Linked DNA regions of Homo sapiens. The protein of the gene in region 1 purifies or fractionates together with the protein of each later gene. This does not show direct contact. Each region holds a gene or a part of one and is shown on either strand. Other genes may lie near its edges. The genes, in order: TFAP2D and DPYSL5.

Region 1 (3,824 bases):
ACTCTGCCAAAACCTCCATGACAGTGTCTGAAAACCTGTTCGCAGTTAGAAATCTGAGAGTTCAAAATCTCAATCGTCAAATTAAAATCCATTTCTTGACATCAAACTTGTAGCCAATACAATGGCAAACCATGTAAACACCTGCTTTAGGAGCTAAAAACAAATTCTCCTGTACTTCCCCCTCTTCATATTCTCACCGAGTTTTAAGCCAAAATACAACAATAAAAATGTTCCCCCAGATTCCTGGACCTAAGACTACCATTTCACTTTTGTTATCGGTTTCACTCTGTACTTAGAGATGCAAAATGCATTTCAAAAAAAAATCTTAAATGACTTCTTAAAATTTTAGATGAACAGGAAAGCAAGGTAGGTATTAATGAATCTGTGGTGTAGAGTCATACTGTGAGAATTTTGATCCTGATTATTTTAGGAATTAGATAAGTCTACCCCAAATATATTAAACAAAGAGAAATCAATGTCTTTATGCAAAATTCACATAGCCCTCTTCTAAAAATGGATCTCTACTCACAGTCACTATAAATCATAAGCAAATTGATATTCTGACATAAACTTTCCTCTCTTGCATACTAGCCAGTATACAAATGAGGACACAAGGAATCTCACACAGTTGCCAGTTAGCTTCAAGTTTATGATAAGTGAGAGAACAGAGCGTTTGAGTATATGTATGAATTATTTTCCTGGATGCTAAGGGTAGGGAATACCACAATTTTAGAACTTTCTTATCTTTACTAATCTTCAGTGGATTAGAAACCTAATTTAGGGAGATGTAGATGATTATCATTTTTAAAAGAAGTTGTTAGATCAGGCTCTCCCCAACTGGAAGACTTTTGGCAAAGTGAACCTTATGTGTTGAAAGCCAGCTGCTCCCAGGGAAGCCACTGAGTCTGCTATCTACCCACGTGCTAACTCCCTGGGCCCAGAGTCTCCCTCTCCTACATCTAGGTTGGGCTTCTGGCTTATGCTCAAGTAGACATTTATTAGGTAAGTTACACAAGCTGCATATTAAGAGTATGCTTTATGCACACACAAATTGCCTGAAGGATTTATTTTGTATTCAGGATTAGCCATCAACTCTAGAGTCTTTTATTTTTTATGTCACAGCATCTTTAAAGGGAATTTCTGTTGCTTTGATACCTGGCATTGCTGCAACCTTGGGGAACTCTCTAGTCCTGGCTAAAGATTTGGCAACTTGTAGAGTTTACAGCAACTTGGGGAACCTGATATCTTTCTTCTTGGTGATTTATTCTTTAGAGAGGTGGAAAAAAGTAGTAGGTCAATATCACCAGGGTTTTGCCTTTAGATTGAAGGTGCTGAGGGAGTGATACTTCTTTAAGATAATCCAGACTACAGATGGTAATGATGAGATCTCAAAGAAGAATGTTATGAAACGTTGGCCCACACCAAGCCATTTACAGTAGTCATCCCCAGTGTTACTACTTGAACTTCCTCATGGTGCTTGTGTTGCATGTCAGCTCATATTGAAATTATGTGATAATCATTCTAGATTCAGCATCACAATTAAGAATGTCTTTGATTCTATAGCCAGTGTATTCATGCAGAACTTCTCCAGAGTTCATCCCTTTTCCATATACAGTTCACAGAAGCAATACTTTCACAAAGTTCACTATTTTTAAATTTGGAATTTGGAGATAGGGCTCTCTATTTTCAGTGATGCTGCAAATTCTGATGGGTAGCTATGGTAACAGTGGTAAGAAATCAGAAACTATCTGCTCAAGGTCCTTTGCCTAGGACATGGCTTTCATTAAAAGGGATAACTTTGCCATAGCTACAGGAAGAAGTCAGCCAGAGACTTCTGGCTCAGGTGTGACAAAACTAGCACAAAATACATGGATGCAGATCCTCCAGCTGCCATATCTTGTTAGATCTTATTCGGTTTGAAGAAGCATGGGGTGGCTTTACCTTGGCTGCCTTGGCATAACAGGGGACATCTGGCCAGTGTCTGCAGACAGTGTGGGGCAGTGGAAAGAGTACCGGGCTACAAGTAAGAATTTGACCAACTATCGACTCACGCAACTTTGGGCGAATGACTCTGGGTCTAGTCTGTCCATCTAAACAATGAAGATGCTCACACTTGCTCTACTTATCTCCCCACCTTGTAAGGAGGTGCAATGGGAAATGGATGCACGCACGCTCGGCAACCTGATTATAGGCCACCCAACCCCGCCACTTTTTTTTAAAAAAACAACTACCCCGTTGCAGGGTGTGAACTGCGGGGTAGGACAAGACAGGTCCCCCCGCCGACACACACACACACACACCCCGCCACCGTCTGTGCTGCAACTGGATGGGAAAGACAAGCGCCGGAGCCTGGGTGAGCTTTTTCTCTTCTCATCCCAGGCTACTGGGGCAGAGGAAACAGCGGCGGCTGTCTCCAAGGAGCCGCGGGTCCCTGGAGCCTCTAAATCTGCCTCTGAGCCATACTCACGGCCTCCGCGCCTCCCCCGTCTCAGAACGCACCCAGCTGTGGCGAGAGGTCCCGCGCGCTCTCCAGGTGCGATCAATACTTCCTAGCGGGCTTCCGGGCGCTGGGCCGGTGCGCGCATCCTCTCCAAAGCCACAGCGCCGCCCCACTCGTCGTAGCGTCGGTGTTGACATAATTAGACCAAATCTTGAGAGCAAAATAAATGATCTGTTCGCCTTACAGCCAAACAGATGTTTACAATTCAAATGAAAGAAATACAAACGGCAGGGATTTTTCTTCTCCCCTTCTTCATCTCCAGTGATCGCTCTTTTTTTTCTGACACATTAAAAATGTGTAAGCGATTACAAGAGTTTCCTGTCCCTGTTTGTTCTGCGGTTGCATTTCTGCGAGGTGCGCCTGTGAGTTGGGTGGGGAGAATTATTCTCTGCTGCTTCCTCTCTAGCCTCTCACCCTTCCTAACCCTCCTCCCCCATGTTACCCCTCCCCCCATGTTACCTCTCCCCCCACGGCAGCAGATATTAATTGTAATCAAACAGCAAAGGATGCGGACTTAATTGGAATCAAGTAGGCCTTTGATGATGTGTAAGGAGCGAATTGTTTGGGGGGAGGGTATAACATTACAGGTATAGCTGGATTACCAGGGCCGAATGAGCTTCTCCTTTTGTAGATTCCAGGCAGAACAAAAGAGAGGTGTGCGTGAAGAGACTCGCTGGTTTAATGTGGCGGTAGGTGTGTAATGGTGTATATTAGGGTGTGTGTATGGCGGGGGTTGGGGGGAGATTAATCCCCATTCCCCAGTGCAAAAAGTGTTTTGGTTTCTGCTGATTTTCAAAGCAGTTAAAGAAATTAGAGAAAAGGCTGTAGGCTGTGGGAAAGCTACCTCTTTCCCTCTACAACCCCCAACGCCCACAAAGATTTCCAACAAATCATGCTTCTGGATGCTTTGGTACAAGAGTTTTAGATTTCATATAAAGGAGATTGAATTTCAAACCTGCAGAATCTGCACTGGGGACTAAGGAGGCAGGCGAGGCTTGAGGTGTATCTCTGGCTCTATCTTCACCCATAATGGATGAACCATAGAGATGAGTTTTGGCTAGCGAGAGTAGTGATTCCAGGTAATCCATCTGGAATCCGAAGAGTACTGACAAAGGAAGAAGAGCAAGGCTTCCCACGCTCCTCCAATTGTACTCCTTCAGGAGCTGCTGAAAGAATCCACGGCTTTCTCCATCCCGGATTCCAAGGCTCTGGGCCTTCCTGAAACCCAGAGAAGCAGAGGAAATCGCTTCCTCCTGCCAAGCAGCCTGCTGCCGGCCTTGAGGCCGGCTAAAGGGAAAAGCGATCAGGTCCTTCTACTCTGTTA
Region 2 (3,824 bases), on another chromosome or scaffold:
CGAGGTCAGGAGATCAAGACCATCCTGGCTAACACGGTGAAACTCCGTCTTTACTAAAACTACAAAAAATTAGCCGGGCTTGGTGGCGCGTGCCTGTAGTCCCAGCTACTCAGGAGGCTGAGGCAGGAGAATGGTGTGAACCCAGGAGGCGGAGCTTGCAGTGAGCCGAGATCGCGCCTCTGCACTCCAGCCTGGGTGACAGAGAGAGACTCCGTCTCAAAAAAAAAAAAAAAAAAATGTTAAGTCTGATCTCATTCACTTGTTTGTATAAAGACAAATACCAAACATGGCAGACCACATGCTAAAAAAAATCTTTCTCAGGAACAATTTGGGCTGTGAATGGATCACATAAGGCAAAAACCAGCCAAGTTAGGAGTTCATGACTGCCTTGGCAGGCTCCTCTGGCTGCTCGTGTTTCATTACCACCATCCTATAATTATGCCTCAACCACTGTCCTTTATGCACACTGGCCATGCCCATCACTGCCATCTCTCCTGGGCCACATGACGATACTGGCCATGAACATGAGATGCGACAGGCTGAAGGTTAGTGCTCATATTGTTGTGCCTTATCTTTACTTTTTTCATTAGTTGCAGAGGTTCTTTCCATTATAATCCAACTGTAAAAATCACATCTATTTTAAGTTTTTCCAGAAACCTACAGAAAATAAGATACATGTCATAATTCTATTTCTAAATTTAAAAAAGGCAGTGTCCTGTCTGGCCATTATAGGAAATCTGAAATTATTATAAGAAATAAGAATTCTGGCCATTATTAGAAATCAATATCCTGTCTGGCCAAATAAGAAATCTGAACTCTGTGATTCCAAGCTGACACTTTTGTGGGATTTTTTTTCTTTTTTTTTTTTGAGACAGAATCTTGTTCTGTCGCCCAGGCTGGAGGGCAGTGGAGCAATCTCGGCTCACTGCAAACTCCACCTCCCGGGTTCAAGCGATTCTCCTGCCTCAGCTTCCCAAGTAGCTGGAACTACTGGTGTGCACCACCACGCCCAGCTAAGTTTTGTGTTTTTTAGTAGAGACGGGGTTTCGCTATATGTTGGCCAGGCTGGTCTCGAACTCCTGACCTCAGGTGATCTGTCCACCTTGTGCCCGAAAAGTGCTGGGATTACAGGCGTGAGCCACCACGCCTGGCTGAGACTTTTTTTAAGCCACAGAAATCACACAATTCAAAATTGCTATTTGACCCAATACAAGAAATATAAATTAGTTAACAATAAAAAGCACTTGTTAATCTTGCCCAAGGCTGTCAGGACATCTCTGGAATGATATCTGGACCAATGTTGCATTTATAATATGATTTTCATCTTTTCCTCAAGAAACATGAGTTAAGAAAACTGCAGTAGCAAGACTAAGGTAGACGTACACCGCTTAGTTTAAAAGTGTTCATTTCAGCCAATCAATTGGTTATTTGTGGACAATTCTTGAAAACTAGTATAATATATATTATATATACATATATAATATTTATTACATATATTATATATGTATATATAATATATATAATTTTTTTAACTGATAGATTACTGTGGAGTCAGAGATATAGCTTAAAGTTCTACTTTTTGCTGAAGAATAAGAGTTGGAAGTCAACCTCTGATCCAGCCATAATATTGTGCCAGTCTTTAGGATTTTGGTTTAAACAGCTGCATTGTATACTTCAGAGGATTTTTTTTTTAATTTCTCCATTAATCTTAGCATTTGGCACAATTTACTAAAACAGAACATGTGTGTATCCCTGACCCAGTAATTTCACTCCTAGGTATATATATACCCAACAGAAACACCTACTAGAATGTTCACAGCAGCACTGTCCATGAAAGCCCCAAACCGGAAACTATCCAAATACCATTAGCAACATAACTGACACATTTGGTACATACATACAATGGGATGCTATATAGCAATGAAAAAAATAAGCAAATTAGATACAACAGTAAGAGAAATCTCGCAAATATAACCTTGAGCACAAGAAGCCCCTGGTGAGAGAATATCCACTACATGATTCCATTTGTAAAAATTCAAAAATAGGCAAAGCTGATTGATCTGTGTATAAGCAGTCAGGATATGGAGGAAGAATACTAAGTAACTAGAGACTCTCCTTGAGTACTGATAATTCTGTTTCTTTCTTTTTTTCCCTTTTTTAAATAATAAGATTTTGAATCAGGCAGGCTTCTGAGCCATAGTAGGCTCAGAGACTCCAATTTTCTGTTTCTTAATTTGGTGCAGATTACATGGGTATGTCTCATCAAGCTATACACTTATGGTTTGTACACTTCTCAGTTTATCTGTTATACTTTACTAGTTTTTTTTAAAATGCACCCTCAGCCACTGTACCCCCCAAAAGTGACTGTTTCATGTATGTGTATTGCCACTTGACAATACGGCAAACTTAAAACAATTTAAGTAACTTCATTAAGGTTGAAAGTGTTTCACGTATGCTGGAAACAAGAGCAAAAAGATATTAAATGAAAAAATTGGGGGTTGTTTTTGAATTTTATAACAGAACAAACATATCAATCTACAAGGTCAGAAATCCGAAGTAAAAAATTAGAAAGGAGGCGGCTTCTGTATCAATAGTGGATCTTGCTCTGCAGAAGGACAAAGGGAGGGACAGGACCAGACAAAAGAAGGGAGAATAAAGACCCAAGGCGTGAGAATTTCGAGTCAGCCCATGGCGGATTTGAAATCAACAAAGGGGCAGCTTAGAAATGGACACTGGAGTGACACAAAGATGGTGTGATTGAGTACCGGGCACTACTAACATGTGGGAGACACACATTCACAGGGAGTCCAGGCAGCAACAGACCTCAACCCCTTTGCCAAACCAATGAAAGTGGACAGATGTTAGGTAGTAGGGAGTGACACGTGCACAATTCAGAATGCAGAAGTTCTCCTTTCTTTCCAAAAGAATCTAGTCATTCACAAAAACTCAATCTTACTTGGGCCAGATGATTTTTTTTTTGAGATGGAGTCTGGCTCTGTCACCCAGGCTGGAGTGCAGTGCCGCGATCTGGGCTCACTGCAGCCTCTGCCTCCTGGGTTCAAGCGATTCTTCTACCTCAGCCTCCTGAGTAGCTGGGACTACAGGCACCTGCCACCACGCCCAGCTAAATTTTTGTATTTTTAGTAGAGACGGGGTTTCACCATATTGACCAGGCTGGTCTCGAACTCCTGACTTTATGACCCACCCGCCTCAGGCTCCCAAAGTGCTGGGATTTCAGGCATGAGCCACCGCGCCCAGCATGGGCCAGATGATTTCTAATTTAAAAGGGAGGCCAGGCGCAGTGGCTCACGCCTGTGATCCCAGCACTTTGGGAAGCTGAGGCGGGCGGATCACCTGAGGCCAAGAGTTCCAGACCAGCCTGGCCAACATGGTGAAACCCCGTCTCTACTAAAAATACAAAAATTAGCTGGGTGTGGTGGTGCATGCCTGTAATTCCAGCTACTCGGGAAGCTGAGGCAGGAGAATTGCTTGAACCGGGAGGCAGAGGTTGCAGTGAGCAGAGATCGCACCACTGAACTCCAGCATGGGCGACAGAGTAAGACTCCATCTCAAAAAGAAAGGAAAAGAAAAAGAAAAAGAAAAAGAAAAAAAATTTAAATGGGGAGCCAGAGGTCTCAGTAGCTGGAAAATCCTGTAAAATATCACCTAAAACCATTCAGTCATTCTTTCAATATTATCTGTTGAATGGTTACTCTGAGCAATATTCTGGGCTAGAAGCCACCTGGACGAGAAAAGAGGTCCAAATTCTATTTTAAACAAGGTAAGGTGCAGCATTTTGTAATGGGATAGCCTATTGCTAAATT

Evidence for each region.
Region 2: the proteins of TFAP2D (region 1) and DPYSL5 purify together in Homo sapiens (affinity purification with mass spectrometry; one large-scale study listed by BioGRID and IntAct). This does not show direct contact.

The regions. Positions count from the first base shown.
Region 1 is NC_000006.12:50,723,240-50,727,063, reverse strand, and holds part of TFAP2D (transcription factor AP-2-delta), read right to left. Parts: intron 1-3,824.
Region 2 is NC_000002.12:26,854,584-26,858,407, reverse strand, and holds part of DPYSL5 (dihydropyrimidinase-related protein 5), read right to left. Parts: intron 1-3,824. UniProt on the Homo sapiens protein: Involved in the negative regulation of dendrite outgrowth.